Linked DNA regions of Homo sapiens: region 2 is linked to region 1. The links come from fine-mapping of genetic effects on gene expression. Tissue or cell type: whole blood. Region 1 holds a variant in brackets; the other region holds the start of a gene. All regions are shown on one strand. Distances are from middle to middle.

Region 1 (8,175 bases):
CCCCTCCTCAGCTCCTGTGGCAGATGGGGAAACTGAGGCTGACAGGAGCTTCCTCCTCCCACTCTGCCCAGAGGCCTCCGTGACCCTCCCCCCAGCTGGCCTCTCTCACCTCACACCCCCCATACCCCCAAATGACCTCCTCGCTCCCCCCATCTCCCGGGGTCCCGCCCAGCCAGCACACCCCCTACCACACACCCCCCACCCCAAATGACCTCCGTGTTCCGCCCACCTCCCGGGGTCCTAGCACCCTCACCTCATCTTGCACCTCCTGTCCCCTCACCCCAGCATTGCTCAGCGTCCCACCCCGATGGCCCCCACCTTCGGGACTGCCCCTGGCAGGGTGGGCTTCAGGGAGCCGAGAGCCCTGGTGGTGGCTCGTGGGAGGGGGCCTGGGCGTGGGTGTCTGGGCCACAGGAGTCCGAGAGCCATCCCGAGGGGAGAGGGCGTCAGTGAGACGTGGGCTGGGGCTGTTTCCCTCTAGCTGCAGGACCCGCAGGGTCAGTGTCAGCCTCTGCCTCCCCCAGGAGGCCTCAGCCTTTCCTCCTAAGACTCAGTTTACTCAGCTGCCAAATGGGACCATTTCTTGTCCTTCCAACCCCACGAAATTTCCATGAGACACCGAAGGGCAATAAAGGCTGTGGGCAACCCTCAGTACATGCCCAGCTGTGGGGAGGACAGGCTGGGACCCCCACTCCCCATGGCCAAGGGACAGGCTAGATCTCCCACAGCTACCTCCAGGGGACAGGCTGGGACCCAATGCCCCACCACCAGGGGACAGGCTGGGTCCCCCGCACCCCACCTCCAGGGGACAGGCTGGGCCCCCCACATCCCACCTCCAGGGGACAGGCTGGGCCCCCCACACCCCACCTCCAGGGGACAGGCTGGGTCCCTCTGCACCCCACCTTCCGGGGACAGGCTGGGCCCTTCTGCACCCCACCTTCAGGGGACAGGCTGGGTCCCTCTGCACCTCACTTCTAGGGGACAGGCTGGGCCCCTCTGCACTGCACCTTCAGGGGATGCTTGGGTATATAGGGCCTAGGCCCTGGCCAACAGCCACTCACCCACGGCCCAGCCAGGGAGCTGAGAGCTGAGAGCGAGCAGTCACCCACTGCACCCCAAGGCTGGGAGCCACCAGCAGGGGCAAAGCCCATTGAGCTATGGTTCCCGGCCGTCCAAGCCCAAGCCCAGATCTGGAAGCAAACACCCAAGGAGACACTTTCTCCCTGTCCGAACTGCCCAGATGGTGAGCTCCCTATTGGGAGGCAGGTAAGCAGAAGCTGGCAGGGGAGGAGGGCCGGGGAGCAAGCATGAAGTTGGAGTCCAGGCTAATTGGTGAACCTTAGATCACACCTCGGCCGGGAATTCCAGGATCCCGGGATCCTGTCTTCTGGGAACAGACGCTGCTGGAAGGAGGGAAGGTGGTCTCTGAGGTGAGATTCTGGGGCCAGGGAGGAGCTGGCTCAGGTGAGACCCCAAAGGTGGAGTCAGGTCAGCCCGGACCCCGGGGGTGACCAACCCTTTGACTGCTGTTGACCTCAGGCCATACCCCCTCTGCAGCTGAGAACCACTATCTTTCTCTTCTTTTTTTTTTTTTTTTTTTTTTTGAGATGGAGTCTCGCTCTGTCGCCCAGGCTGGAGTGCAGTGGCGTGATCTCGGCTCACTGCAAGCTCTGCCTTCCGGGTTCACGCCATTCTCCTGCCTCAGCCTCCCGAACAGCTGGGACTACAGGCGCCTGCCACCGCACCCAGCTAATTTTTTGTATTTTTAGTAGAGATGGGGTTTCACCGGTCTCTCATGATTCGCCTGCCTCAGCCTCCCAAAGTGCTGGGATTACAGGCGTGAGCCACCGCGCCCGGCCCTCTTTTTTTTTTTTTGAGACCGTTTCACTCTTGTTGCCCAGACTGGAGCTCAACGGCGTGATCTTGGCTCACTGCAACCTCCTTCTCCCAGGTTCAAGTGATTCTCCTGTCTCACCCTCTCGAGTAGCTGGGACTACAGGTGAGCACCACTACGCCCAGTTAATCTTTTGTATTTTTAGTAGAGATGGAGTTTCACCATGTTGGCCAGGCTAGTCTTTAACTCGTGACTTCAGATGATCCACCTCGGCTGAGGTCTCGGTCTCCTGACCTCATGATCCACCTGCCTCGGCTTCCCAAAGTGCTGGGATTACAGGCGTGAGTCACTGCGCCCAGCCGAGAGCTGCTATCTTTCACGCAGAGTGGCAGAGCCTGCCACAGGCCAGCCACATCCTGGGTGCTGCAGGCCTGCCCCCTGGATTAGGGTGGACAGCACGTGATTCTCATGGAGTGCTAGAAGGGACAGTGCCACAGGATGGGGGGGCCAGGCCTGCAGCCTCTCGGAGGAAGGAAGGGTCATTCCAGGGGAGACTTTCGGGGACGCGGGCTGGGGAAGAGCTCACCGCTCCCGACCCAAGGATGAGAAGACTGGAGTGAAGGCCCTGAGGGATGAGCCTGGCTCATTCCTGGAAGGGCTGGAGTGGAAAGGAGGGAGAATAAGGGGTGATAGTGACCAGGGTGCAGGAGAGAGCCAGGGCAGGGCCGGGGACCCTTCTCTCCTCAGGGAGAGGGGCTGACCACCTGGCAAACGCGCTTCCCACCACTGGAGTTCCCAGAGCGGGAGGGCCGGGGATGTGGGGACAGTGGCGGGGACAAAGCGCCGGGGCCGAGGGGCTGGGGACCACGGGGGCTGGATTTATGACCTCCCCTGACCCCGGCAGAGAAACCAGCCTTGTTGGGCATGGCCAAGTCACCAGCGACCAGCCCGGGGGTGGGACAGCCGGGATGAGAGGCCCAGAGAAGGGATTAGCCGCGGCCCAAAGGGCCACGCAGGGCACCATGGCAACCGCGAGACTGGGCCCGGAGAATGGGGCCTGAGTTAACACCCCAATGGGGCTGGAGGCTTGTTAAGCAGCTTACCAGGCGGGCCTGCCTCGCCATTGACATGGAAATCCAGGCCCTCCGTTCCTAGCCCTGAAAGGCCTGTCCCACTCTGAAAGAAGGGAGCCAGGAGGGGGGTTTCCAGGGTGGGTGGGGTGGCCAGGGGGCCAGGTGCTGGGCCGGAACAAGAACCAGCTTCCACCTTCCTCCCCAACCCTCTCGGCACCCCTGCAGGTCGGAACGGAATGTCCAGGACCCACGTAGACTCAGACCCTGAGTGGGAGGGCCTGCGTGTTACCTGGTCTGACTCCCAGGCTTGAGAGGGGCTGAGTGTTACCTGGCTTGGCTACCACTAAACAGGGGTCCAGGGTGGGGCGTCGCTGGGGGCAGTCCTCATTGTGGACGTGCTCTGGCCAGGGGTTGCATTTCCTAAGTGGATGAGCTGGCTCAAGTCAGGCTTGTGGGCCACAGCGTAGGGCAGGGGAAGGTCACCTGGATAGACAGAGCAGGGATCCCAGCATGGGAAGAAGCTAGCACCCCCGAGGCTCGCCTGACCCCTGTCCTCATTCCCAGCTGATCCCAGCTCCAACTACAACTCTAAGCTCCAGTTCCTCCAAGGGCTTGTCTCCAGACGTGACCCATGTCCGCATCAGGAGATTGTCCCAGAGCTAGCCTCAGCCATGTGGGCACTGGGCCCTCCTGTCTCACAGACCCCGGTCCTGGCTCCTTCCACAGGGCCCTGGCCTCCAGCTCTGCCTGCCCCGTTCACCATTCCCCCAGCCTCCACCCACCAGGTCCTGCCCACCTGACCTGGCCACCCCGGAGCTCAGCCCTGGGACCCTCTGCCCCAGCAGTAGACCCCTTCCCAAGACCTCTTGCCATCCCTCCTCTGCGGCTCAGCACCAAGTGGGGGCCTCAGCCTCCCTGACCCAGCCCCATGATGCTGCTTCAGACACCACCACATCTCCAGCCCCAATTGTCCAGAAAATTCACTCGTGTGATTTGCCACAGTGCCCAGCCCATTCCCAGGCCTGGACCCGTGGCAGGACAGTGAGTGGGGGCAGCGGCAGGCCTGGCCTTTGAGACCAGGCTGTGAAGTCTGTGCTTCAGATGGGGCAGGGGTGGGGAGACAGCACCCCCACCCCAGTGTGGGAGGCCCAGACTCCAGCCAAGTGGGGAAAGCCCCTTGGAAGCCGAGATGTGCCGGAATGCGGGGCAGGCCTGAGGGGGTGGCAAGGAGCTGAGCAGGTGTCTAAACCCCTGTTGACATGGGATTACAGCCATCTGGCAGCCCCTCCCCACACAGCCCCCACTCCGGGCTCTGGGCAGGAACCAGGGAGCTGAGACGGGGCAGCTCTGGGCAGGGCCTCAGTCTCCCTGCCTGAAGAGTAGGGTATACTTGAGGGAGTGCAGAGCTCCAGGGTAGGGATGGGGGCAAAGGCAGGCTCTCCATGGGACCTCCGGGTGGGCTCTGCCCTGTCCCACTAAGGGACTCGATGAGGCCCGCACGTGAGAAAGGAGCTTTGGGAGGTTGGCCAGCTAGGAGGTGAGATCACAGCCCTTTGCTGGGGGCCAGGGCCCTTGTGAGGAAACTGAGGCTCAAGAGTGGAGGCTGAGCAGCTTCTTGCTCCTGCCTCCCCTACCCTGGGTACCCCATACCCTAACCTGGCCTCGACCTCTCCAGCTTCAGGATCCTGTTCTTCCTGGAGGTTGTGTGCAGCTTGGAGCTCGTGAGGGGCTACTGTGATCACAGGGTGCGCTAGGCGGTCCTCCAAGCAGGGAGCTGCATCTACGCAGCACCCTCCAGCCTTTACTGGGGTGGTGACACCC[G/A]GGCTTGGGGGCCACCCTTGTCACTTCTTGTAGCACCGGCCTGCAGCCCCTGGGATGAGCATCCCAGCAGCTCACAAACAGTCCTGATGAGGAAGCAGCCGGGCCCGGGGTCCACCCCCCCATGGTGTTGGGTTTCCTCCGGGCATGGCCCCAGCTGCACGCAGCTGGCAGAGGTTATGGGGCTGGGAACTTGAGAAGGTTGTGTCCCCCTCAACTCTGGGGGAGGGGCCATAGGCACCCATCAGAGCCGGGGCTGGCTGGCCTCCCCCTCCATCCTCAGCGCCCCCAGCCTGCCATCTGCCTCTGTCTCTCGGGGAAGAGGAGGGGCCGCCCGCATTCCTGCACACGCTGCCCCTCCCTACATCTGGCCCTTCCCACGCCCCCTCCTTCCCCAGCAGACCCTGGGGCCCCCTCCCCATCCCAAACCCGCTTTGACAGGTCACATGGGCACCGGGCCCCACCCCGGCAGGGTCTGGGGACCCTGTCCATGCCCGTCACCCCCTGTTCCTCCTGTGGGTGACTCCCTCAGCCCTTTGACAAATTTTCCCGAGGCTTCCTGTGCGCCTGGTGGCCCCAGACCCTCCTGTGTACTGGGAGCAGGGCCCCCCCGACCTGGGAAGGAACGCCCTGTCCATGGCTGCCCCCAGCTCCTGGACACCCACGAGCGTCTGACTCAACTGGGTACCCCCCACTCCTCATGCAGGGATTGGGGGCTTTAGGGCCAGGGAAGGTGGAGGGAGGAAGAGGGCAGTGCGGCAGGGCTGGTCAGATGGGCAGCTCTGTCCCCATCCTGCACTCCGGGCAGCACAGATTGCTTCTGGGTAGAGGCCAGGCTGGCCGGCTCTTCTCCCTGCAGGTCCGGGATGCAATCACAGCAGAGTAAGGAGGTCTGCCCCTCATCCCATCAGGGGTACCTGGGTGGGACCTGGGAGACCATGGGCTAGAGACCAGGGGAGAGGGTCCCAGAGGAAAGCACAGACACCTCAGGCTGAGGCCAAGCTGCAATGCTTGTTCTCACTGATCCTCAGAGCCTCTCCTGGAGGAGAGGGTACTGAAAATCAGGCCATAGCAGGATGCATAGGAGTCCACCAGGTAGAGAGGGGCGTGCAGAACTCATTGTCATTTCTAAACTCCTATGTGGGCCTGAGAGTTGTGCTCAGACCCCCTTGGGCACTTCATCAATGTACTCAACATTTATTGAGCACTTGGCTGGGTGCGGTGGCCCATGCCTGTAATCCCGGCACTTTGGGAGGCTGAGGTGGGTTTGGATTGCTTGAGCTCAGGAATTTGAGACCAACCTGGCCAACATGGCGAAACCCTGTCTCTACTAAAAATACAAAAAATTAGCCAGGCGTGGTGGTGCGTGCCTGTAATCCCAGCTACTTGGGAGGCTGAGGCAGGAGAATCTCTTGAACCTGGGAGGTGGAGGTTGCAGTGAGCCGAGATCACACCACTGCACTCCAGCCCAGGCGACAGAGTGACTCTGTCTCAAAACAAACAAACAAACAGACAGACAAACAAAAAATGTACTGAGCACCTGCTGTGTGCTGGGCCCGGTGCTGGTCACAGGGACGGTGGGTAGTCCACACAAGACTGCCCTCCACCCCTCGACAGAGGAAACTTCTGGCAGCTGGCTGTGCGGCCCAGTGGTGATGGGAGACAGAAGAGGCCTGGGCTTGCTGGAGGCAAGGTTCGTAAGTGGAAGCTTACCAGGCGTGGGGGAGGCAGGATGTGCAAAGGCCCTGTGGCCAGGATGCTGACAGAGGATGGGACAAGAGGCCAGTGTGGAGCCAAGGTGGGGGCGGGGACACCTAGTCTGGGAGACCTGGGGCCACACCACACCCCTGTGAGTAGAGCGTGGCATGATGCAGTTTGCAGGGGGGTGCTCCCCACCTCAGGCACCCAGCCATGAGAACCTAGAGCCGAGCTTGACTTAAGATGAGCCGGTTTGACGCTTTGGCTAAGGGGACAGAGGGGCACACACGGAATATTCCAGGGGCTGTGTTTGTGCAGGAGCAGAGGTGGGCACACAGGGGCCCAGGACACACAGTCACATACAAAGACCCACCTCTAGAGACGCACAGAGACAGGGACCCGGTGGACTGCATGCACCAGCAGCCTGTTTACCTCCTAACCCTCCCTCCTGCTGCCTCTGCATCCCCCTCATCCCCCCTCCCCCAACACACACAACAGCCGCCAGGCGGGTCCCCTTTCTCTGGCTCTTCAGCAAAGCAGTTGCTCGAGACTAATTGAATTTTCCGCCTGGGAAGGGCTGGGGAGTTGAAGGCGGGTGAGGCTGGGAAGAAGCTTGTTAACAGGTCTGGCCCTCCCCACACCCCCCAGGCCCCCTCCACGGCACCCCGCCCCACTCCCTCCCCACAGGGCCTCCTCTCTGCAGTGGGGGTGGGGTGGTCAGGGGCCCTGGTGGCCGTGGAACAATGGACAGACAGACAGGACCAGCCCACACCCTGCCAGCGCCTGAGGGGCCGTGCTCCAGAGGAGGCTAGAGTGACCTTCTGGGCCTCAATTTCCCCTCCTGACCCAAAGAGAATTGGGAGAATTGGGATTGGGGTGGGAGTCCCGGCTCATAAACAGACTCACCCGACTGTAGGTGTTCGGGGGGCCACCCCTGGAGATGTGGGAGCCCCACCCACTGACCAGATGGCAAGACTGAGGGCCGGGCAGGCACAGGGCTGGGCCTGGGGGCTCAGCGAGGCTGTGCATGGTGGCGGGGGATGAGGAGCCACTACGCCCAGTGTTCAGCCCCACGTGCTGCTCCTGGCCCTGCCCATATTTATGGTTTGAGCGGTGGTGCACACGTGTGCGGGGTGTGCATGACAGGAGGCTGACGGAGGAGCAGCCAGTGGGCAGGCGACCCCCTGCCTCCACCCCTGCCTCCAGCCACCAGCCTCTCTCCTTTTCTTTTTTTTTTTTTTTTTGAGATAGAATTTCGCTCTTGTCACCTGGGCTTGAGTGCAGTAGCAAGATCTCGGCTCACTGCAACCTCCACCTCCCAGGTTCAAGTGATTCTCCTGCCTCAGCCTCCCGAGTAGCTGCTGGGACTACAGGCATGCGCCACCATGACCGGCTAATTTTTGTATTTTTAGTAGAGACGGGGTTTTACCATGTTGGCGTGTCTCGAGCTCCCGACCTCAAGTGATCTGCCCACCTTGGCCTCCCAAATTGCTGGGATGACAGGCGTGAGCCACCGGGCCCGGCCCCCCTCTCCTTTTCTCGACCCCAGTCCCCACACCACTTGGACCGCGAATGCTCAGATGTCACCCAGCCTGGAGGCCCCTCACAGGTGCAGTGGAGGGGATGGCGAGAACAAGGGACTCGGGGGCAGGGACAAGAGCAGGAGGCCCTGACTGCTCCCCGGGAGACACGTGTTGGCCACGTTGTTTCCTCATTAAACTGCCCCTCGGGCCTCCCTGGGGAGCCTCCCTT
Region 2 (8,168 bases), 21 kb before region 1:
CGGCTGTGGGAAGCCAAGTCTCAATCACTCGGGGTTGGGGACAAAGGCCTTCGCTGGGCGGCTGCCAAGCCCTGGCGGACAAAGGGCCTGGAGGGAGGATGAATCACCAGGCATTGTCCGCCAGCTTTGTCCTGGGCTGGCGGGAGAGGGGCGCCGGGCCGGCCTTAACTCGGCCGAGTTAAGCAGAGTGGCCGCGCCGCCCATTACCATACAGCTGGCCTGGTTAACCGGGCCAGGCTGGGCATGAGGTCCCGCGCGTAGGGTGCAGCCACCAGCACTGCAGCCACCCCACAGCTGCCCTTTGGGCCAGCACCCCTGTCCTGGGTGACCTGCAGGACAAGCTACCCACTCTGAGCCAAAGCAGCCCTGAAGTTCTGCAAAGTTGCCAACGGTCAGCAGGGTTGTGGCAGGAAACCTCAGGTGTCCCCAGCCCCCAGGTCAGGGGCCCCCAGTACCCATGCAGCCCAGCACCCCTCCCACTGCTCAGGCAAGGAAACCCAGGCTTGCCCAAGGCCACAGCCCACCTGTGCCAGCACGCGGCCGCCCCCTGCCAGGAGCGCTCTGCGGAAGAGGAGGGGGCCGCCAGGGCGGGGCCAGGAGTCGCCGGCGCCCGCCTGGGCCTGCCGGCACACGGGGAGGAATGTTCCTTCCTCTGCCCGGCCCGCCCAGCGCGTGCCGCCCGGCGCACCCTGGCATGGCTGAGTGCAAAACCCAGGGTGTACGGGCAATGCTCTGACCAAGGGACAACCCCCTGATGCCCACCCAGCCTCAGTTTCCTTCCCTGTACACACAGGTCCCGCAGAGGCCCTGGAACACCTTGGTAGTCTCAGATCCTTATCCAGCCTGACCCAGCCCTGGGCACATGCTCACTAGGGTGAGGCCCAGAGCTAAGGGGGTGGCAGGCTGGGTCTCCGCCTCTCCATGCATGCACCCCTCCTGCAGCACCCATAGACACCCCAGGGCAGCCACACGCACAGACTCGCACCCAGCCCCTTGGCCTCCCCAGAATCTCAGCCCAGGAATGCCGTGGGAGGCGGAGGGCCAGCCCCTGCAGACGCTCCACTGCGCCGCTGGGTTAAAAGGAAAATGCTTTCTTAATGAGATCAAGGGAGGCCTGTTCTCCCGAGATTTGGTGGTGCCCTAAAAACCCAGCCCAAGGCTACGGAGATTAAAGTCACCTTTGTTCAGCTCAGGGAGCAGGGAGGCCTCTAGAACAGCATCTGAGAAGGCGGGGCTATGGGGTGCGGGGGTGCCGGTCGAACTGTCTCCCGACACCTGAGCCACCAGGAGGGGAGGAAAAAGGCGCTGCTGGGCTATAGGCCTCACCTGCCGCTCAGAGCCTCAGTCTCGTCTTCAGTAAAATGGGCATAACAGAGCTCCCCTGGGCAGAGAACAAAGTGCAAAGACAGATTCTCTCCCTTCCTCTCCCTGACAGCCCTCGGAGGTGGGTGCCATTACCAGCTGAGGCCCAAGTGGGGAAACTGAGGCCCAGAGAGGTGCAGGCACCAGCCTGAGGTCATACCCTGGGGCCGAGGCGGTGCTAGACCAGCCCAGTCCCTGCCTTCTAGGGACCCAGACCCCCCAGTGCCACCTAACTTTCCAGACGAAGACGGGGCTGCAGGAGGAAGAGCCGGGTGGATGAGGGTGGACGGGGGCGGGGGCCGGGGGACACCCACAGGAAGCAGCATTGTTCCTGGAGCCGCGATTCAAAGAAACACAGGATGCCAAGTTCTCCCCAGCAATTGTGGCCGCTGTGGTGGCAGCGCGGCAGCCTGGCTGCTCCTGGGAGGGGCGGGGAACCTCTGGGCCAAAGGCCAGGCTCTTCATCCTGGACTCCAGGCCCATCTCAGCGCGGCCCCTGCTGACCAACCGACCCTCCCCCCAGCCACCACTCCAGTTGCTAGAAGTTTCCTGCACAACCCCCATGCTGTGGTCATCACCATGCCCGGATGGAGTGCCCTTTCTGGGCACTTTTTTACTCTTAGTCTAGCTCAAATGGCGCCTCCTCCAGGAAGTCTTCCCTCCTCCCTCCCTTCCCCCAGCATGTGGGTCAGATGCCCACTGTTGCCTCACACAGCCTCTCGGGGTTTTCCCCCCGCACAGCCCTGACATCTTTCTATCTCCCCCATCAGACCATGTCTGAGTCATTCCGTGCAGGGCTGGGAGAGGGGGGCCCTCTTCTGTGGGTTTCCAGGACCCCTGCCCATCACCCACCACAAGGGGGTCTTTGCTTGCTGTGTGCTGGTGAACTGATGCTGAGGGCAGATTCAACCTGTCCCCTGGTGGGGTGACCCTCCAGTAGGGACCTCAGGGCTCAAGGGAGTGATGGCCCCCACCTCGACCCTGAGTGCCCGCCGGGTTCACCCCATGCCTGCAGGCTTTGCCAGTCTCTTACAACGTGCTCCTGGAAGGACCATGTTCCCCCATTTCAGAGATCAGAGTGAGGGTCTGAGAGGCCCCAGGTCTTGCTCAGGATCACACAGCCCAGCCCTCTGACCACATCCCCTCTGTTGGAGAAAGGCCCCAAATTCCAAGATGAGAGGTGCTCAGAGCTGGTGGTAGCCCAGAGTGGGGCTGAAGGATGCCCAAGATCACATAGCAGTAAGGCTTGAGTGCTGGGGGTGGGGGGGCCAGGCTCAGGGATGGTGCCCCAAAAGGACTGTCAGTAAGAGATGCTGGGGGGGCCCGCTGGTCCCCTCATCGCCAGGCAACCTGAGTGGCCAGCACGCCAGCAGCGGTTCCCACGGAGCGCGTAGCTGCACACAAGGGGCCCGACGCCTTTCTCGCTGGAGAAAGGGGCTTTGTTACCTTGCCCAAGGGGCCGGCGTGAGAGCCGCCCGGCGCTGGGAATCCTAACGGCCCGGCCGCCAAACAAAACCCACGGCCCCCGCCGCCCCCTCCCGCCAGCCCGCTGAGCCCCTGGGAATGGGACGCTGTGTTCCCAGGAGGCTGCCATGGGGTTCCCAGGGCCCCTTCCCCACGCCAGGACCAGGGAGGACCCTGCCCCTCCCCGTCGCCCTCATGACCTCACCAAGCCCTGCTCCCACCCACCCACAGTGCCCCAAAACAGGACAGCGCCAGGTCAGAAGGCCCTGGGTCTCCGGGGTTTGAGCAGGGAGGAAGGCGTGCAGGGTCTTCCCTGAGCCCCCACCCTCACAGCAAATGCCTCTGCATCTCCCAGCCCAGAGACACCCCCCCAGTCCCCGACTGCAAGCCCCACACACTGTCCCCATCCCGCCCCAGCCCAACCGTCCTGCTGTGGCCTCGAGGGAAATGTTCAAAGTGGGGTGTGTCTTAATTATGTGTGTGTAAGAAGCTGATGCCCAACTGAAGTGGGCTGTGCCCAAGGTTGCAGGCCTCAGAGACTACTGCACTGTGCGGGGAGGGTCCCCACACAGACCCCAAAACCTGGAGTTCTTTGAGATGTACTCCCCAGGACCCACCAACCAGCAATGACTTCCCTCCCTCCCCGTACCTTAACACTGTGATGAGGAAAGGGCCCAGAGGTCAGAACCCCTCACTTCTCTAAAGGAAGAGCCTTTCTCCCCAGGAAGGGGTCTGAGCTGAGGGTGGGTCCGAACAGAATTTGCTTGTGGAAGTTTGAGGACATAATGCCCTATGAATGCGCTCCAATGTTTACGGGGTGAGAAGTATCACAGGGCACCAACCCCAAGCACTGGAGACTGGTGTAGGGTCCTGCAGCCATCCAGGACTCTGGAGCTGGACAGGAGGCGGGGCCCCGGGGACAGTAACACAACTGTAACGGGAGAGTGGCCCCAGCAGGCAAACTGGGTGCACCGGGGTGCACTGGCGTCGCCCACAGATGGCCCTAGTGGCTGGATGGGGATGCAGCCTGACTCCCATGGGACACTGCCACCAGCTGGACCAGATGGTGGGTCCCCGCCCCGCTCGCCCGCCAGTCCAGGCCGCGGGGGGCTCACCATCTCCTTGTGGCGCGAGATCCAGGTCTCCAGCAGCAGGTCGAGGCGCGCGCGGTGGAACTTTTTGGTGGTCTTGACAGCGATGAAGACGTCTCGGGGCGCGAGCGGCTCGGCCAGGGGGCGCGGGTGGCCGTCGGCGGGGCGGGGGGCAGCCCCGGGCGGCGGGCCCGCATCTCTGCGCGCGCGGGTGAGCAGGCTGAAGTACTCGGACAGACTGTGCACGTCGCGGACCAGCGCCCCGGGCGCCGCCGCCGCCGCCCCCAGCCCGGGCGCCGGGGCAGCCCCCGCGGGGCCCGCCAGGCTGCGCAGCGCGCGCCGGCCGCGCTCGGCGGGCAGTGGAGGCGGCGGCGGGTCGGCGGTGAGCACCAGCAGGCAGGCGAGCAGCGCGCCCGCCAGCGCCAGCAGCAGGCGCCGGCCGCAGCGCTTGAGCATGGTGGGGTGGCGGCCGCGCGGCGCGCCCTTCCCCGTGCGCCTGCCTTGCACCGACCCGAAGCCCGTCGCTCCGGCGGCGCAGTCCAGCAGCGCAGCACCAGTGTCCCGCGCTCTTAAACCTCCCCGCCCCGGTCCCGCCCCCGTGCGCTCATTGGCTCCCGGGCTCGGGGGCGGGGCCTCGCGCCGGTCGCCGCTCCACGCCCGCAGACCCACGTGGGGCCGCGGCTGGGGGCTGGGAACTGCCCAGAGGGCGCAGCGGCCCCGCCCCCGGCGCGCACGTGCACGCCCCGCACCCCCCCCGCCCCGGGTAGCCCCTGCGGGCCGCCGAGGGGCTTGGGGACGGGCCCGGCCCGCGCCGGTGTCCCTGAAGAGGAAACCCAGCCTGGCCAGCGCCGTCCGGGGATGCACCGGGCGTCCCGGCACGGGAGGGGCGCGCCCTCGGCGCAGCGGGCAGGGTGCTGAGACCCGGGCTCTGGGCTCCGACGCACCGCGGGGGACATCCTACTTCCTCGCTGTGCGCTTCCCCTCCTGAGCACGGCTTCCTCCCCTTGGGACGCGGCAGGCCTTGCAAACTGGGGTGGCGCCTGGGTCTTCCCGAGCGCTCGGTTCAGGGGAGCCGTTATTTGTACAGAGCAAGAGCTTGGCCACCTGTGCCGCAGGTGGGGACACGAGGTTCTAACGAGAAAGCACCAGAACCAAATTCCACTCCTTCCTCCCTGGCTGATTTCCTCGATCCTGGCCCTCCGTCGGGAGGGTTGGCTCCCCGAAATCCTCAGGCGCCCCATGGCGAGGAGAAACGAAGGCCGCCACTTCCCTCGCCGGATGAAAGGCCGCCTTCTGTCCCATTTGGTCTCCTTGCGCTCGGGCCAGATGCGGCCCAGCTGTGCGCCCTCCCCACCCCGCCTCCCCGGCACACGGCCCCCATCCCCGGCCCTTCCCACGGGCCCGGGCCCGCCCCTCGCACGAGCGGGGGCGGCAGGAATGCGCGCCGGCAGCCGAGGGTGAGGGGCGAGGGGCCCGGAAGTGGCCAAGGGTCGCCTGAGCAGGGTGTGAGCCCCCTGCCCGCCACGTCCTCCGGAAGCGTGGACGGAGGCGGCTCTGCCCGTGGCTGCGCTGTCTTCCCGTGCCCTCCTAAGCAGGGTCTCTGCGACCACCACGACCACCACCGCCACCACCGTGGCTAAACTGCCCCCCTCGGAGTTATGTTCACGCCTGAGATGGCATTTTAAATTCTTTAAGTGCCCTTGGAGCCCCTCTCCTTACCTCTACCTGAATGTCAGCCGCAAGACAGCAGCGACCTGGTGTCATTCAGACCTGGAACAGGTTTTGGGACATAGTAGGTGCTCTGAAAAAATTCACTGGATAAATGTCTGGCCCCACTGTCAGACCCTCTCCCCCCGCTAAGGACGCTGTAGCCCATTTGCTCTTAGGGCCCCAGGGGCCCCACCCCTAGCCCCTGTACCCGCTGGGTGGTGTGGGGGATGGGGGTTCCCAGGCCTCTTCCTGGCCCCAGGTAATTAGCAGTCACCACCTCCGAAAGCAGATGCCCCAGCAGATGGTGCTGGCTGTGCCCAAGTGACAAGTCTCCCATGGCGTCACCTCCTGCCATAAACCCCTTCCGATCAGCCAGAGCCTAGCCCTGGAGCCTCCATGCAGCTGGAGAGGCTTGAGGGTGAGCCGGGGAGAAAAGGACCCAGTGACTGGGTTGGCTGCCCCCACAAAGTCAGCTGAGTCCCAGCCCAGCCCCAGCCTCCGGACTGAGGGGTGTCCATGACCCCACGTGCTTCAGTCACACCGCTGACTTCAGGCTCTCCCATATCTGAATTGTTTCAGAGACGGAGCCTCATCCATCCCCATCATCTCTTCCCTGAATCACTTGGGCAGCCTCCACCCCCATCCCACCCACTCCTATCCTACCTGCTTTACTTATTCTCCACGCAGCAGCTGGACAACTAGGATCATAGCCACTCACACACCCACACAAAGAGCAAAACCCTCCATAGCTCTCCACTGGCTGAGTTAAAGTCCCGCCTGATATTCACGCACCTCGTGACTTAGTCCCAGCCCCGTTTCTTGAGGCCCAATCCCTCCTCAATCCCCTGCAGCCAAGCATGGCCAAGCCCCCAAATATGTGCACGGGTTGTGCTCTGTACCTGGACTTTACATCAGTGGCACCGATGGTGGGTGCCATGCCACCCTGCACCCCACCTGACAAGATGCTGTGAGTCCATCTCCCCACAGTTCCCAGGCCAGGGGATGGGGCTTCCTGCCCTGAGCCGCCCCACCCCCGCAACTCCTGCTCCCCAGCTACCCCTGACTGCGGTGCCTTTGACCCAGCAGGTCGTGGGAGCAATGTGCCCATTGTAGAGAAAGCAAGGGGGATATTGTACCAAGGGAGTGACCATACAGAGGTGGATGGCCCAGCCTGGCAGGGGCACATGCATAGAACTGGGTAGGGGGGGTTCCCGCGTCTCTCTGTAGCCAGGAATGGGAGGAGTGGGGGACCTGATGCTGCTGCCTGTCTGGAAGCAGCGGGAGGAAGCTTTACAGCATTCTTGTGGGGGCCGCAGGCTTTGGCAAGAGTGAATCAATTTCTTTGCTGTCAGGAGAATGGAATTTCGTGGTGACTTCTTGAGGTCTGAAAACTGTTGAGGGGGTGGCCCGCCTAGCCACCCCCGCCCGCTTCCCCAGGCTCAGCTTCAGCCTGAAACACTTCCCTCCCCATCCAGACCCCAGGTCTCCCTCTAGGGGCCCACTGGGCCACACAGCCCTGGTAGGGAAGTGGGCTGTGGGATGGTGCTCAGCCCTGGACAGGACAAAGGGGAGCTGGGGAGGGGGCTAGAGAGGGCTGACCGAGTTGCCAGTGAAGCCTCTTGGGGCCGTAGGGTCCTGGGGAAGAGGGGCTGGGGATAGAGGCTGCCCCAGGGCCCAGCCTGCCTTCCGAACCCAGAGGGGCCACTTCTCGGCTTTAAGACCTTGAACCGGTGGTGTTACTCCCTGAGCCTCAGTTTCCTCACTTGTAACACAAGGATGACATACCATCCAGACCAGGCAGGCCAGCTCTGGCCCTGGCGCATGGCTTCATGGGCTTCTTGGACCCTAGTCTTCCCCTCTGCAGGGCCCCTCCACCAGTCCCAGTTTGGGGCTCCCAGGCAGCTGGGTGTGCGAATGGCCCGAGAGACCTGCCTGCTGAGGTCAGGTGGAAAGCAGGCCCACGGAGCCAGGACCCACATGACCAGGGGCCCTACCCTCCTCCTCTAGCCGCCATCAGGCTGAGACAGTGTTCTGTCCCCATCTGAGTCCAGGCCTCCTCTAACTGCCAGGGCTCAGCCCGGGGGTTCTCCTGCTGGAGTCAGTGCCACCAGGTCCCCAAAGCCATGGGCTGGGTCTGCCCTTGACACTCAGGCCTAGAGGGGAAGGGCTCGGGGCTGGCTTTGAGGTGGCCATCTGCCTTCCCTCCCCCGGGCTGTTCCTTGGGGCTGCTCTGGCCTGCCTTCCTGCAGGGTCCTGGGAAGATCTGTGGAGACATAATGGGTGACCCATTAACTCGGCAGGAAGCCATCCGAGGCGCCTGTCCACTCATCGGCTGATGGAGAGCGGCCCCACTCAGTGTCTTGGGAACCAGCTTCCTCTGGGCCAGTAGCAGTGCCCAGAGATGGAAACTCCTGGACAGGACTCAGCATGGTGGTGGCTGTGGCTCGGGCAAGCCTGCACCTCCCTGTCCTCTCCTGACACAGACGCAGGAATGCCAACCCCCAGGCTGGGGCCAGGCATCAGAACTGGCAGTGTTTGAAG

Evidence for each region. PIP is the estimated chance that this variant, and not a neighbour inherited with it, causes the effect.
Region 2: LFNG starts here. The variant in region 1 is fine-mapped to the expression of LFNG in whole blood (TOPMed, PIP above 0.99).

The regions. Positions count from the first base shown.
Region 1 is chr7:2,494,904-2,503,078 of GRCh38, reverse strand. No RefSeq gene overlaps it. Among named protein-coding and RNA genes, the nearest start is that of LFNG, 21 kb to the left of the region's middle. RefSeq lists enhancers at 1,799-2,764, 2,765-3,731, 7,633-8,175. The variant G/A (reference allele first, on the strand shown) is at 4,729.
Region 2 is chr7:2,516,067-2,524,234 of GRCh38, reverse strand. LFNG (LFNG O-fucosylpeptide 3-beta-N-acetylglucosaminyltransferase) reads right to left here and starts at 4,461. Exons shown (of 8, transcript NM_001040167.2): 1 at 3,942-4,461. The coding sequence starts at 4,373. RefSeq lists enhancers at 746-1,258, 2,125-2,184, 2,225-2,354 and silencers at 4,286-4,395, 4,406-4,935.